2 separate regions of the Homo sapiens genome follow, and region 2 is linked to region 1. Evidence: fine-mapped expression QTL. A gene starts in region 1. The other region holds a variant in brackets. All regions are shown on one strand. Distances are between the middles of the regions.

Region 1 (8,332 bases):
CATGAGGGAGCCGAGGCTATGAGAATTTGTTACTGCCATAGATCAGAGGTCCCCAACCCCCGGGCCATGAATAGTACTTGTCCATGGCCTGTTAGGAACCCCCAGGGGCAGGTGAGGGAGCATTACTGCCTGAGCTCTGCCTCCTGTCAGATCAGCAGCAGCATTAGATTCTCATAGGAGCTCAAACCCTACTGTGAACTGCATGTATGAGGGATCTAGGTTGCATGCTCCTTATGAGAACCTAACTAATGCCTGACGATCTGACGTGGAACCGTTTCATCCTGAAACCATCACCCCCAACCTGGTCTGTAGAAAAATTTTCCTCCACAAAACTGGTCCCTGGTGCCAAAATGGTTGGGGACCTCTGCTTTAGATTGACTGACCCAACTGGTGGCCTTTCTGATGAAATATCCACTGTTTGGCAATATAATAAAAGCTGGGAGAAGAGAAGGAGAAGGAGGAGAAAGAGGAGGAGAAGAAAGGCATCCAAAGTCCTATTTCTTAAAACCAGGCCATATTGCAGACAGAAGGCCAAAGAATACATTTGAAGATACATAGAGTGAGTAGCAATCAGAAACTAAGTTCACACATGTTATCCATTTGACCTTCATCATGTCAGTCTGAAGCAAGCAAACATATATTTATTTACCCCAATTAACAGATGAAATGACCATTTTAAAGTCAGTCATCCATGACAGAACCAGGAATTAGAACCCAGGTCACCCAACTACATCTTAGAGTGTTATCAACATAGTTTACAGACATAACTTAAGGTGTACATCTTAAACTGTGTGACAGTCTAATCAATGCACAAAATTCATTCTTTTTAATTTTTAAGAAGATGTAGTTGGTACTTGCTGAAAGCAGTGATCCTGATTTGGCCAACTTGGCCTAGTTTCTGATATAAATCACTCCACCTCTCCCATCCTTTCTACCATGTCTAATCAAACACCAAAAAGGAAAACATTTGATTGACTAAATGCTTCTCTTTTGCCTTGGCTCCAAGTTCCTGTAAAAAAAACTTCATCCAGGTAAAGTAAGTAGGGATGGTTATGGGTGTCACCCTTGTAACAAAGCGATATGTATGCTAAAAAGCAAAGAGGGTTTCTCAGGGCAGTTGCCACAGGTTTCCATGGAATGACAATTACAAGGTAGATGGATCACGTAATGCCTGCTGTGAACTTTACAATACATGGGGATCACTATTTTAATGTTGATTTGCATAATGTTTGGCCTAGCAAGAACAATACTGAATGCTAATAGCTACAGAATGCAATAAAATGGAATATCATGTGAGCTGAAGTGCTAAAATTGCTAAAGTATGACTGTAAGCAGTTAATTTCATCCCGAGTCTTGTCCACACACAATCAAATGCAAATTTCCACTATCTCCTGAGAAACTGCCAAGAGATGACTGAAATGGAATAGCAACAACCTCCTTTATGTGGAATCATTATCTGGTCATCTTTGCTTTTTTACATAACTTGTCTGTACCCTCTGATGCATTTGAATTTGCAACTTCTACTATCCCTATCTTAAACAACTCCCCACTCCCACCTCTGCCCCTTCCACATTTGCTGGCAGATGCACTAAGTCTGATAAACTCAGCAAGACTGAATCTCACCCTCTGAACTGAAAAACTTTGAATGGACCTTTGAAAACGGTAGAATTGACAATGGTTAGCTGCAAGTGATATTTTCAAGGCAAACAGACACTCTCCCAAAGTATTAAATAACCCAGCATTCTAAGTTGCAGGTGGAAGGTAGCCATTAGTGAAGAGAGAGAAAAAAAAAAGAAATAGCTCGTCTGTATTTAGATTTATCATTTCTGACTATTGCTCTTCCCTGGAAAACGGGTAGGTACAGTCATCCTGTACTTCGATCCCAAATCAGTCTCTGGAGACTACTTATTTATTTATTTATTTATTTATGGACTTCTTTCTTTCAAGCGTTCGAACTCATTTCCACCACAAGAGGGCAGCCATCTCTAAAAAAAAAAAAATAGGGCCAAAATTTATGTAAGTTGTGCTTGGAACAAGCATTCAGTAGTTCCTCAGAAATCATACACCCTACATAAAAGAGATTCTGCAATGGGCAGCACTAACATGAAACAGTGTTCAGAAGTACCCATTTTCCCTCAGATTCTAAACTGACAAGGTTTCCACTTACCAGGTTATGAAGTTCTAAAGCTGCAAGACATCCTTGAGGTCATCACAGGATATTTATTTATTTTTTCTTCGGGTGCATCCAATAGTTATCAACTTTTCCTCCTCTTTAAAAGCTACTTAAATCTCATTGAAGTTTTGTTTTGTTTTGTTTTTGAAATCTAAGTAATGAGAGAAACAATTGTTAACTTCTCAATTAAACTTGATAGGAAAGGAAATAATTTCAGAAGCCCTGTGTCCATGAGTAGGATATGTTTTATTGCCTCCTTGTTTGCGGTGCAATGACTCTGAGTGACAATCAACTTCTATAGCACCTTTTTTTTTTTTTTCAGGAAATAAAGTAGCATGTTCCTGAATAATTCCCCCACCCCCTTTTATTTTCCTGGTAGTCAGGCTTCCTCCAAAATACCTTATTTGACCTTTATACCTTTAGAAACAGCAAGTGCCTAATTCGCCTCTGTGGGTTGCTAATCCGATTTACGTGAGCGGAACCTAGTATTATTTTAGCTCCCCTACCGAAAAAATAATACACATGGATAATAGTTCTATTACCAGCTCCTGCTTCTGACTTTTTTCTCTCTGTTTCGCAGGCCCGATAGCTCTGGGAAAGCAGAACTTGGCCTTTTCCAAAAATTTTCTGCCCTTGGTTTTGGGGATCATTTGGGCAAGCCCGAGGTGCTGTGCATGGGGGCTCCTGGAATCCTGGGAAGGGCAGAAAGCCTTGGCCCCAGACTCATCGTGCAGCAGCTCTGAGCAGTATTTCGGCTGAGGAGTGACTTCAGTGAATATTCAGCTGAGGAGTGACTTGGCCACGTGTCACAGCCCTACTTCTTGGGGGCCTGGTGGAAGAGGGTGGCGTAGAAGGTTCCAAGGTCCCAAACTGGAATTGTCCTGTATGCTTGGTTCACACAGTGCGTTATTTTACCTTCCTCTGAGCTGCTAATCGCCTGCCTCTGAGCTGGGTGAGATAAATATCACAAGGCACAAAGTGATTGTACAATAAAAAAATCAAATCCCTCCCATCCATCCTTCAGTCTGCCACACACGCAGTCTACGTTACACACATGTCACGTAAAGCAGGATGACATCCATGTCACATACATAGACATATTAACCGAAATGTGGCCCTTCGGTTGCATATATTCTCATACATGAATATATTTATAGAAATATATGCACATATTTTTGTATATTGGATATATTTATGTAACTATAAATTTACATGCGTATGGATATGAAAATAAATGCATACACATTTATGTAAAAAAATTTGTACACATGCATTTACATATGTAAATACATACATCTCTATGTATTAATGTTTAAAAACACTCAATTTCCAGCCTGCTGTTTTCTTTTAATTTTCCTCCTATTCCGGGGAAACAGAAGCGTGGATCCCACGTCTATGCTATGCCAAAATACGCTGTAATTGAGGTGTTTTGTTTTGTTTTGTTTTTTGAAATCGTATATTACCGAAAAACTTCAAACTGAAAGTTGAATAACGGGCCCAGCGGGGAAATAAGAGGCCAGACCCTGACCCTGCATTTGTCCTGGATTTCGCCTCCAGAGTCCCCGCGAGGGTCCGGCGCGCCAGCTGATCTCTCCTTTGAGAGCAGGGAGTGGAGGCGCGAGCGCCCCCCTTGGCGGCCGCGCGCCCCCGCCCTCCGCCCCACCCCGCCGCGGCTGCCCGGGCGCGCCGTCCACACCCCTGCGCGCAGCTCCCGCCCGCTCGGGGATCCCCGGCGAGCCGCGCCGCGAAGGGGGAGGTGTTCGGCCGCGGCCGGGAGGGAGCCGGCAGGCGGCGTCCCCTTTAAAAGCCGCGAGCGCCGCGCCACGGCGCCGCCGCCGCCGTCGCCGCCGCCGGAGTCCTCGCCCCGCCGCGCTGCGCCCGGCTCGCGCTGCGCTAGTCGCTCCGCTTCCCACACCCCGCCGGGGACTGGCAGCCGCCGCCGCACATCTGCCGCCACAGCCTCCGCCGGCTACCCGAACGTTCTCGGGGCCAGCGCCGAGTGGATCACCGGGGACCGCGAGGCACCCGCGCGCCGCAGACCCCGCGCGGGCTGGAGCACCCGGCAGAGCGCGCCACAGCGCCGTGGCCTCTGCTGCCCGGGCTGCGCCAGAGCCGCGGACGGGCGCGCAGAGCGCCGGGGACTCCGGAGCCGATCCCTAGCGCCGCGATGCGGAGCACCTACTGCAGGAGATCGGGGGCCTGGGACGCGCTGGCCGAGGTGTGATCGGACCCCAGGCTAGCCACAAAGGGCACTTGGCCCCAGGGCTAGGAGAGCGAGGGGAGAGCACAGCCACCCGCCTCGGCGGCCCGGGACTCGGCTCGACTCGCCGGAGAATGCGCCCGAGGACGACGGGGCGCCAGAGCCGCGGTGCTTTCAACTGGCGAGCGCGAATGGGGGTGCACTGGAGTAAGGCAGAGTGATGCGGGGGGGCAACTCGCCTGGCACCGAGATCGCCGCCGTGCCCTTCCCTGGACCCGGCGTCGCCCAGGATGGCTGCCCCGAGCCATGGGCCGCGGCGGAGCTAGCGCGGAGCGCCCGACCCTCGACCCCCGAGTCCCGGAGCCGGCCCCGCGCGGGGCCACGCGTCCCTCGGGCGCTGGTTCCTAAGGAGGACGACAGCACCAGCTTCTCCTTTCTCCCTTCCCTTCCCTGCCCCGCACTCCTCCCCCTGCTCGCTGTTGTTGTGTGTCAGCACTTGGCTGGGGACTTCTTGAACTTGCAGGGAGAATAACTTGCGCACCCCACTTTGCGCCGGTGCCTTTGCCCCAGCGGAGCCTGCTTCGCCATCTCCGAGCCCCACCGCCCCTCCACTCCTCGGCCTTGCCCGACACTGAGACGCTGTTCCCAGCGTGAAAAGAGAGACTGCGCGGCCGGCACCCGGGAGAAGGAGGAGGCAAAGAAAAGGAACGGACATTCGGTCCTTGCGCCAGGTCCTTTGACCAGAGTTTTTCCATGTGGACGCTCTTTCAATGGACGTGTCCCCGCGTGCTTCTTAGACGGACTGCGGTCTCCTAAAGGTAGAGGACGCGGGCCAGGGCCCGGGGTGGGTGGTGGGTGGGAGGGGGATTTGGGCAGCCACTGCGGTAGAGCCCTTCCTTACGTCCAGGCCAGAAGTAAACAGACCCCTCTCCAGTCCACGTGCAACGGAGCCCTGCAGGGGCTCCCACTTCCAGCTGCCCCGGGCGACCGTAAGCCTCACCCTCCCGGCCCGCACTCTTCCACCCCTCTTTCTTCCCCTCTCCCTGGAATACTTTTGGAGCTGTTAACACTTAGATGAGGTGTTTTATTTATTTATTTATTTATTTTTAATTTTTTTAAAAACTTTTTTGGGTCAAAGAAATCCCTTTGAGAGGGTAGCCCCTGGGTTTCACCCGTTAGCTGAGAACCTGTCCGCTCTGCCATGGTGATCTCCATTCTTCAAGTGTTTCCGGGAGACTTGGTTTCTTTGCTCAGAGCCGTGTCCCATTTAGGAAAGTACTAGGAGTTTGGGGTTCTCCCTACTTGTTTCCAGAAATGCGAGGGGTCAGTACTGAAGGATCACTTGGTACTGTGTTTTTAACAGCTGACACGTGCATTAATAGATATTCACCATTTACGTAATCCCGGGAAGATACATGTGTATCTTGACTGCACTGTGGGGATGCGGGATGGAGCTGCCTTTCGAGACACCCCTGAGGGTAGGGGCCTGGGACACAAGTCATAAGTGGCTTCAGAAGTTGTGGCCTTGAGCTTACAGGGTCTGGAAGCTATAAGGGTGTGTGTGTGTGTGTGTGTGTGTGTGTGTGTGTGTCAGGAAGTTCTATACAGTGCCTCTAAGGAAGTCACATGCACCATTTATGTGTGTTTATATGCCAGACAGCGCTCAGCACTCCGCATTTGGGTTTGTATAGGGGACGCAGGGTGTCAGATCAAGCGGTGGTTTTCCCAGGTTCCCGGCATTGGCTGTCAGCGCTGTGTCACACACAAAAAAGTGACAGTCATTGGCGCTGGTTTGGTTGGGGGGGAGGGCAAATCCCAAATCTGATGTCAGACGAGCTAAGCGTTGGATGGGAGCGATAAATCATCTGGTTCAGGAACTTGGGACCCTTCATTATCCCAAACGTTTGAGCTTCGGTCGGTCTTACCTAGACTCGTGAGTGTGCCAAGCCAGGAGGGCATCCTGGAGGAGGCACGCCAGCCAAATGGGAGACCGGGCCGCGGGGGCGCGAGGGGGGAGGACTGGGCGGGGAACTCGGGTGACTCACGTCGGTCCTGTCCGCAGGTCGACCATGGTGGCCGGGACCCGCTGTCTTCTAGCGTTGCTGCTTCCCCAGGTCCTCCTGGGCGGCGCGGCTGGCCTCGTTCCGGAGCTGGGCCGCAGGAAGTTCGCGGCGGCGTCGTCGGGCCGCCCCTCATCCCAGCCCTCTGACGAGGTCCTGAGCGAGTTCGAGTTGCGGCTGCTCAGCATGTTCGGCCTGAAACAGAGACCCACCCCCAGCAGGGACGCCGTGGTGCCCCCCTACATGCTAGACCTGTATCGCAGGCACTCAGGTCAGCCGGGCTCACCCGCCCCAGACCACCGGTTGGAGAGGGCAGCCAGCCGAGCCAACACTGTGCGCAGCTTCCACCATGAAGGTGAGGCATGGAGCAGGGCGTGGGGGCGGGGAGTCACCCTGCAAAGCCCTCCACCGTGGGCAGACTGCAGCCGTCCCTGTAGAGGCAGCTTGGCCGGGGCACCAGCGGACGTTTCCACTCTTGCTTCTGTACTATCGTTTCTGAATCTGATTTTAACTCACTGCTTGTGTGGTGGGGGAGCCAGGGATTCCCCTTTAGTAACTCCGCACCCTCTTCCTGGCTTGCAGCCAGAAGAGCTACTCCTCCTGGAAGAATTGGAGAGAAATCAAGTGATGGGGAAGATGAGGGCAAAAGGCATGCCTCTAGTCAGCTAAACGTGCAAGAATTCCACAGAGGGAAAAGGAGAAAAAGGGAGGCAGATTGAGATTTCTTTAAGTCTGTTTGGAAGCTTTTGCTCTATAAATCTGCCGCTTAAGCCAGGGTTTTAGGGTAGACAGAGCCAAGGGCAGAGTTTTCAGAGATAGTATTGAAAAATCAAAGCCCAGGGCCCCAAAGTCTTTCTAATTTATAGTTGATCTGGGCCTGGTTTGGAAGATTTTGAATCCCAATCTAATCCCCGTGGGAGATCAATACTACAATCAATCTTATTGTTTCCACAATGACTTTCTTGTCCTGTGCTTAAATCTGAGATAGGCTCTGAGTAGAGACAAGGCAAGCCTTCAGATAAAAGCGTTTGTAGCAGCTGCCTGTTTTTTTTTCATGTGCACCGAAATGTGGATTTTTTTTTCTTTTATGATACTACATGTGGTTTTTCTAAGGTGGGATATTTCTGCTTGTTTCATCAGAAGGGCATTTAGTGGACTGGAAATGTCTTACAGCAGCTATTGAGGTCTGCTGTACCTAAGTTCTTAGAGCAATTAGTCAAAAATATGTTCCACTTCAATTCTTTTTCTACACTTTTAAATGCTTCTTTGGCTTAATACATTTAAAATAGAGCATGGGTTTCTTCAATTCCTAGAAAAGAGTACAAAAGTGTATATCACAGAGCAACCACTTGGCAGATATTTGGGGAGTTGGGAGTGAAGTTCTCTTTCTTGCCTTTCCCTGCTTAGGTGGTAAATTTCAAGTGGGAAATTTACACTGATAATAGACTAATGGGAAATGGCACTTCCAGATGTTTTCTCCCAGTGTGAAGGGTGACTTATACTTGTGAGAGTATTTGTTGGTAATGGGAATAAGTCCCAAAGGCAAGCCACATAGCAGAAGATACGTTCTCATTGAGGCAGCTACACATTACGACGGGGACACTGAATTGATCATCAGTTCATTTACAAGCACATTTCTAAGTGAGGTGCTCTCTGCTAGCAGAAATCAGATTTGAAAGGCAGTAAGATCTCACTCCACTCTTTCAGAATTCATCCAATGAAAGCAGAAATCACCTGTTGTCATATGTAAAATTTGTGTGTATGTGTACATTCTGCCATCTTAACCCTGAAATGATTATAGATCCAGCTAATCATTCCCAGGTAATGCTGATTAGAATACTTTTTTTTTTGTATAGGAATGTAATAAGAACAACTGTTTTAGACACCTCTTCTGGAAAT
Region 2 (8,332 bases), 120 kb after region 1:
CTGCAGGCCCTTGAGTGAATGAAGATCTGAAGTGGCTGTTCTGTGTAAAATACACGTGGATTTTGCAATGTGGCCATTCTAATTGGCAGGTAACTTCAACATCAGAAATCTCCAAGCTGGGCTCTCTGAGGAGAGCGGGACTAGCTCTCTTATAGGCACCAACATTGCAGTTTGGATTATGGTTTTTTGACGAAGGGTATTCAGTGTGTCAGAGGGAAGGAAGTCCAGGGCCAGGGTCAGCCATCTTTCCTTCTGCCCGCAGTAATGTTGACCTCTCGAGGAATTGATGACAGTGGAAGAGTTCGGGAAAGGAAAGGGTGGTCAGTAGCTCCAGAGTATAAACATTGGGAACAGGTTTGAGAAGAATGCTCAGGAAAATAGAAACAACTAACCAGCAACTAAACAACTAAATTGCCTGACAGGGAATCATGGAAGCTAATCAATGCAAAATTGGTGGTCAGGTAGGGGCGGGCAATGTTGACATTGAAGTCTTGTGGACAGGCTTCCTGTGTTGATTTAGTAACCACACAATGGGTAAGGGAGAGGGGATCTCTGATCATAGCACCACTAATACTAGGATGCTTCTCTTTGACAGGCATAGGGTATTTTTTTTCTTTTAAGCATTAAGTAAGTGAGAAGATCACCTTCCTTTCTTTCTCTTTTGCCCTAAGGGCCTGCCCATTTCCAGCTGCGTAATTACCTCCTTCATAAGCCTTTACTCTGAGGCATGAAGGCTCTAGCCAGTACCCTGACTAACTCCCTGCTGGGGATGCCTCCGCTGAACAGAGCAGAGAGACCTGCTGATTTCAGAGCCAAGCGCAGAAAGCAGCTGGCTCTTAACTTGTTGTTTAAGAGAGCCAAGCAGAACAGAGCTGACGATTGCCTGGCCAGTGGGAGCCTGAGCCAGGCACCTGTCAAATCCTGCTTTGCTGGGTTCTCCTGCACCCTGCTCTGCAGTGCGCTTTTCCGAGACTGGCGGTCCACACCCCACAGGCTTTCTCCCTCTACAGCCAACCAGCTGCCAGCACCCCTGTAAATTCTTTCTCCAGCTAATATTTTGATCCCTAAGCAAGTTTCTCTCTCTTTTACTGGCAGGAAAAAAAAATGTCAAAAAGGGAAAATGATGATGTCTCTATTTTCTTCTGATAGCAGGCTACCAAACACTCCCAGCATATCCATTCTTTCGCTTTGGGAAAGAGGGAAGGCAAAGTGGTCTTGACGGTGTGTGTGCAAGGAGAGACATTCGAATGTGTATTTTTACCTGTCATTTGGGTCTTGAGAAGGTTGAAGTCTGCATATGGAAAAACTGGCCCTTTCTCTTCTCAGTTCTGAGTTTTAGAGTTAGTAAACTATGTAAATTATTTTATTTCTCTGTGCTCTGCATCCAGGCTGATGTCCTGGAGAGAGGGCTTTGAAAAACTGCCCCTGAAGCTATTGGCATTAACTGAAATTGATGTTTCACAGGACTGGGATAAAGAGGGTTATCAGTAGCTCAGGCCTGGCCTGCCTTGGGGACCACTGCCCACTGGATTACCTATTGGCTTAGGGCATAGGCACTGGCTTAGGAATTAAAAGTACTAAGTTCCAGACAAGCTCTGTTTGTGAAATCACTTAGGCCTCCAGCAAGCTTTAGCTTTTCCAAGGTTTTAGTGCTCTCATTTGTAGAATGAGACGGTCAGTTAGACATCACCTCCAAAACGTTACGAGTTTCATGAATCTGGCTGCACTTACTTTGTGGAGCCATCAGCCCTAACCTGAAGCCTGGGAAACAAGTAAACGTGTTTCAAGTTTCTTAAAAGTTGCTTTCTCAAGTTACTTCCTTTCTTCACACAAGAAATGAAAGGGAAACACTGCTGCAAAGAGCCCTGGAAACAGGTCCTGATTTTAGAAGAGAGCCTTGAGATGACAGGGGCATGGATGTCCTGCACATTCCTTCAGCATAACCGCAGAAAGCCTGCATATATTTTTCGTTGTTTGTAATTGCAAACTTTTCTAAAAATCTACCCTTTAGAAATGATTGCCTTTCTCTGAGGATCAGATCACAGTCCAGCCAATTCTCAGAGAAAATTAAACAAAGAATACTGAGCCTGGAATCTGTGATTAGGATGCCTGGCGAAGTAAAAATGACCGTGTACTTTCCCAAGTGGGTCAGCTATGGCCCCAGATATCCAAACAGGATGGCACATGAATCATGCCGGTTTGATGGGCTCTCTCAGGCTGGATTTACAGCTGGATTTAGGACTAAATGTTGGAGGTAAATCTAAAGGAGCAGAAGGGCTGGGGAGGGAATGGGAAATCAAGGGAGTTTCCATCAAAGCTTTTCAGAAGCAGAAATCCATTCTACCTTTGTCGATGACTGTGGTTTGCTAGGATCAAGATCAAAGGAATCACCGTGGGCAGAGCCATGACAAGTATGAGGCTCAGTCTGGTGCAACCTAGCATTAGCCCCTCTCTTAGGCTGCCGTCTAGACTGGAAGTGGGTGCTCATACCAGACCAGGCTGAGTGTGTAGTCAGGGTACTGTTTCATGACGGGGCAAAGGACTTATAAAGCCTATCTTGATCTCCCCAGGGAAGCCCACAGCCAGGGGCAGTGAGGCACAAAGTAGCTATATCCCTGATTATGTCCTTGGGAAAACAGGGGACATGGAATGACCATGAAGCCAGGTGGTTGACAGGGACAAGGAACTGATTTTGGCAAAATCCAACTGGCTTGTTTTGTGTATCTTTCCCTCTCCTCCCTGATTGCTTTAGAAGGCTGCTCTAAAAGTTTACTAAAAAGTTGTTCGTTTGCAGGCCTAAGACACTTGATATTTGAACTAGAAGGTCTTCTTATCCACACTTTACAGACCGAAAAACTGAGGCACAGAGGGGTTAAATTAGGTCACCCAGCCATGGGTGGAGGATCCGGGAATGAATTAGGACAGATTCATTCCACAGCCCATCTCATAACGACTGACTACTCTAAAGGATATTGGTAAATTTGAATCTTATTTACTGGAAAAGCCCCTCTTGTAGAGCTGGTGCATCACAGATACCAAATAGACCTGGTTCTTATTTGTATTCCTTCATTTATAAGACTCACAGTATATCTATTAAGTTACAAAGCTAAAGATTAAAGAATTTGGTGCTGAGAACATGAATGTAAACTCATCATTTGTTGCTAAATGTATTGGGGTCAGTCAACTTGGGTTAG[T/C]GACCACAAAGAGGAACTTTTAGGAGGCCCATGGCTAGCTTTAGAAATGCATGGTTTTTGCCTAAAGCAAAGTCATCTTGAACATGTTTTGATATTATCTAATATTCCTTATTGTTTTCATAAACACTTACGGCTCAAAGGAAACCCAAGCTCACCATGCCCAGAAAATCTTCAATCTTCCTCTCCCCGTTGAGGCTCTCCTCCCAGGACTGGAGATAGTAGGACAGGAAGCTAGCACTCTACTTGAAAAATGGAATCTACCTAGTGCTGACTCATTTCCTTGCAAAATGTTGTGTGTGAGCTATTTGATGCCCCCAGAATCTTGGGAGTCCTTTTGGATGAATTTTATAAGCCGTTCCTTGATACAGATACTGCATGCTTAGACGCTACAGGTTGCCAAGATAACTCAACCCCAAAAGACTTAAGGTAAATGAAATCTCCAAGTCCCAAGGATTAGGTATGAGTTTTGGCTGCTTGGGTTTTCTCACACAAATGCCTCATATGGCAGCAGAGCAGGCAGCACCCTCCGCAGAATTGGATTATCTTGATGTTTAAGTTTTGCAAATGGATCATTCTCAACTGACCATGTGAATTGAAGAAGGTTGCTGAACTTTTGCTGGCCTCTAAGCCGTGGGCAAATAGAGTGAATCCTATTGATTAAACCCAAAGCTTCCTCCTGTGGAAAATCCTATTTAAGTAGAAGGATTATTACTATTGCCCATTAAAAAATAATCACTATATTGGGCTGGGTGCGATGGCTCATGCCTGTAATCCCAGCACTTTGGGAGGCTGAGGTGGCGGATCACCTGAGGTTGGGAGTTCCAGACCAGCCTGACCAACATGGAGAAACCCCATCTCCACTAAAAATATAAAATTAGTGGGCATGGTGGTGCATGCTTGTAATCTCAGCTACTCGGGAGGCTGAGGCAGGAGAGTTGCTTGAACCCAGGAGGCGGAGGTTGCGGTGAGCCAAGATGGTGCCATTGCACTCCAGCCTGGGCAACAAGAGTGAAACTCCAACTCAAAAAAAAAAAAAATAATAATAATAATAATCGCTATATTGTACCTTTCTTATTTGAAAGGGAGCCAGAATCTAAACAGTAAAGTGTGGTGAGGGGGTTGTTGTTCACTAGGGTGTCTCCCATAGTACAAGTTTATGATTGCATAGTTCCTGTTTCTAGTGCTTCCCTCTACTCTCCTTGACAGGTTTTAAACTAGATAGCAAGATTTTAGGTGCTCCACTGCATAATAAAAGTGTATTGGAGTACTGTGTGGATTCGAGCACTGGCTTCTTGGCAGGAAGAAGAAAACCCTCATGAAGGGTCAGAAGTGGAAGCCATACCTGGTACAGGTCTTGTTAACTGAACATTACTCTATTAGGTTCTCTTAATTATTTGAAAAGTCCTCTTCCTCCTTGCTCCAGGTTCCCTCCCTTTAGGTTGAACCTTCCATGAATTTTACAATCCATATCATTTTCTATCTAAATGATTAAAGCAAGAGCTGGCACCCTCTCAGGACCAGCCTGCTAAGTATTCATTTATTCACCGTAATTTAAGGCTTTCTCTGCCAGGAGTAATAACCCTCCTCCTCCTTCAGGCCATTCTGGATGCAGAATCTGAATGTCAGCCTGGGGCGAAGAAAGGAAGGGCAGAAAGGACAGAGAAGAATATAATTGTCCATAGGTTTCCATAGCTTTGTTAATATTTTTCTTTGGTGGATTTTGACACTGGGGAAAGGTGCATTAACCTTCAGATTACTCTTTAAGGAAGGTAATCCTGGAAAGATAAAGAGGAGTTTTGTGATTTTGGAGCATTTCTGCCTTACAAAATGGAGAGAGAGTTTCATAAAATAATAACAAAAATCAGAAGCAACTTGAGGAAAAAACCTAGAAAGAAACAAAACACCAGGAACAAAGACAAAGGAGCTGTTCTTCTCTTCTTTTAGGTTCCTTCTTTCTGGTATTTATTTATTTATTTATTTATTTATTTATTTATTTATTTGGAGATGCAGTCTCACTCTGTCACCCAGGTTGGAGTACAGTTGCATGATCTCAGCTCACTGCAACCTCCGCCTCCTGGGTTCTAGCAATTCTCCTGCCTCAGCCTCCCCAGTAGCTGAGATTACAGGTGCATGCTGCCACACCTGGCTATTTTTTTGTATTTTAATAGGGATAGGGCTTTGCCATGTTGCCCAGGCTGGTCTTGAACTCCTGAGCTCAGGCAATCTGCCCACTTCGGCCTCCCAAAGTGTTGGGATTACAGGCATGAGCTACCACGCCCAGCCTCTTTCTGTTCTCTTTATCACCAACATTCATTGAATAAATGAATATGTGGATAAAAAACCAGTGATTGAGTACATTTTTGAATGAATAAATGAATGAATCATAGGTCAGTGTTCCTCAAATTCATTCATTTTCAGAATCAAATGGAAGCCCTTTTTATAATACAGATCCCTCATCTACCCCTTCCCTTTCCATCCCAGAGTTTCCAATTCATTAGGTCACTAATGGAGCCCAGGGATCTGTATTTTCAACTGCTTCCCAGGCAATTCCAATGATCACCCAGGTTTCAAAACCCTAGGCCTACAGCACAAATGATAAATGATAACATTTAGGTTCTGTCTCTCATTTCTCCTGCTATTGGCCCCACACTGAATTTAGTTGCAGATTGATATTAATCAGTTGTTTTTTCCTCCTCCATCTGACTAGCTGATTGCCCTGCCTGTCATCCTTATGAATTGCAAATGAAATATGGTGACATTTTTCCAGAAGTTATGTCTTAGAGACTTTCCAATTTTAAAATAATCACCAGGGCTGGGTGCAGTGGCTCATGCCTGTAATCCCAGCACTTTGGGAGGCTGAGGTGGCTGGATCATGAAGTCAGGAGATCAAGACCATCCTGGCCAACATGGTGAAACTCCATCTCTACTAGAAGTACAAAAATTAGCCTGGCATGGCAGTGCATGCCTGTAGTCCCAGCTACTCAGGAGGCTGAGGCGGGAAAATTGCTTGAACCTGGGAGGCGGAGGTTGTGGTGCCACTTCACTCCAGCCTGGGCAATGGAGCAAGACTCCATCTCAAAAAAAAATTAAATAAATAAATATAAAATGATCATCAGATTTTCCATCCTGTTCTATCTCAACTCTTGTGGAATTATCCATTCATGCAAAAACCAACAGGTCCCTTGCTTTGTTTGCTTGTTTTTGGTTAGAAAAGAGTTTGCTTCCGAAATCCATTGGTTTTAAAAATGCCTCATCATCATCTCCCTGCTTACTCATGTATATTTATCCTACAAATATGTATCAAGTATCTCTAGTGTCCTGGGAACACTGTGGATACAAAGATGAAAGATATCACCCTTTTCCTTAGGGAACCTGCAGACCAATGGTAAGCTAGATACAAAAATGATTATTTCACACTCCAGATATGGTGGAGGGATGCATAGGTTAGGAAAGTTGGGGTATATATTGGGTTAGGAGGAGGATAAGTCTTGAAGAAGAAAGTGAAAGCTGAGATTTAGATGATGAAGGGAACTGAGGTATTATGCCTGCAGCCAAAACCTAAAACTTTGGAGAACTAAAGGCAAAGCTGTGTGTGTGTTGGAAGGGATGGCGGTGGGAAATGAGATTGGATATGTAGACAGGGACCACATTAAGAATAACTTCCTAAAATATTGAGTTTTAGTCTGAAGGCATGGGAATCACATATGGGACTTGAGCATGGGGTGGACACAAACAAAATAAAAAACCCATATATTTAAGGAAAGGCGCTCTTATCATGATGGGGTTTGCCTGACTTTAAATTTGCCATATTTGAGACAGTGATAAGGATCTAAATGAAGTTTCAGTCAGAGGATTTAAAGAGCAAAAGCAGAAGAAAGAACAGAAGCAGGAGAATTAATTGCTTGACCACCTAGAGAATGATGATGTGATTATGGAAGCAATTGTTTGACTGATTTTTATTCATTTTTTCCTGTGAAATTCAAAGAAAATGCTGACAGCATCATAATATGACAGTCCAAATCCAAGCACTTCAGCAAGTGGGGATTTATTTATTTTTTTCTTCTTATCAAGGTTGAAAGATCTTCTAAGCACACATGAAAGAAACAGCAGGGCCAAGACTACTTTGAACTTACTGCATACGATTCCTTTCATATAAGATGTGCTTGACAAACATTAATTAAGTCTCCCAGCACCTCTTTGAAGTAATGTAGGAAATATGTAGAGGTGGGTAAACTGAGGCCCCAGGAACTAGAAGGAGAGCCTGAGGACATACCAGGGCAGGTGCAGCATTTGAAAAGACCCTCACAGGAGGCCCCTCTTTCTCTGATGAGGCCAGATGTAGGTGCTTGTTTCCAAGCAGAGGTCTTCCAACAAGTTCTCTCAACCAGGCAGGGGTGAGGCAGACTAGTTATTTGCTCCAATGGCCATACTCTCTGACCTAAAACTTTGGAGAACTAAAGGCTCCTCAGACCTGGCAGCCTTGAGCCTCATAGCACACCCTATCTACCTATAATCCAGATCCACCATCTCCTTCCTGAAATTGACAGCTGTGTTGCATCTCTCCTAATGCTTGTTTTGTCCTTATAACTGGCTGAGACCACTTGATTCAATGGCTAAAAGAAGTACCCTGAGTCACTTTGGTGCCTGAGTTTCTGCTTTTTTTTTTTTTTTTTTTTGCTTTTTCATTTTTGGAGATTAGCCTCACTGGTTTAGCATGAAAGATGTTTATTACGGGCAAATGGAGAAGTTGAGTTGTGATACAGGCCCCTTGGCAGCTTTGGCCAAACTCACAGGGGGCTCTAAAGCTGAAATAGCCCTTCAAAATTGTCCCGAGTTGGTTACTTCCATGTTGATTAATCACTGGATGTGGCTCTTCTGGGAAGGGCAGAGGCTGAATCAATTCCTGAAAAAGGTGAATGGCTAAAGACTGTGCCCAGGCCACATTAGGAAACACATCTTCTGCTTGCTAAACTAGGTGCATCCAAAAAGACGGACCTTGATCAGTTTTATTGGCTACCCAAATATCAATTCATTCTACACATTCAACTGGTCTTCTAACCTATATATATATATATATATGTGATGCTGGAAATGATATTAAACACTAAAGCAATAAAATACGAAGTCTCTGCAGTCAG

What was found.
Region 2: its variant is fine-mapped to the expression of BMP2 in whole blood (TOPMed, PIP 0.97).

Annotation. Positions count from the first base shown.
Region 1 is chr20:6,763,685-6,772,016 of GRCh38, forward strand. BMP2 (bone morphogenetic protein 2) reads left to right here and starts at 4,002. Exons shown (of 3, transcript NM_001200.4): 1 at 4,002-5,191; 2 at 6,436-6,788. The coding sequence starts at 6,443. It overlaps LOC105372517 (a long non-coding RNA gene), which reads right to left and starts at 3,800. Exons shown (of 4, transcript XR_937229.2): 1 at 3,637-3,800; 2 at 2,716-3,121; 3 at 2,168-2,324; 4 at 1,909-1,985. RefSeq lists promoters at 178-5,056, 3,866-4,507, 3,897-5,056, cis regulatory regions at 2,970-3,760, 3,767-3,866, 4,507-4,681 and silencers at 3,946-3,995, 4,086-4,135.
Region 2 is chr20:6,885,737-6,894,068 of GRCh38, forward strand. No RefSeq gene overlaps it. Among named protein-coding and RNA genes, the nearest start is that of BMP2, 120 kb to the left of the region's middle. The variant T/C (reference allele first, on the strand shown) is at 3,195.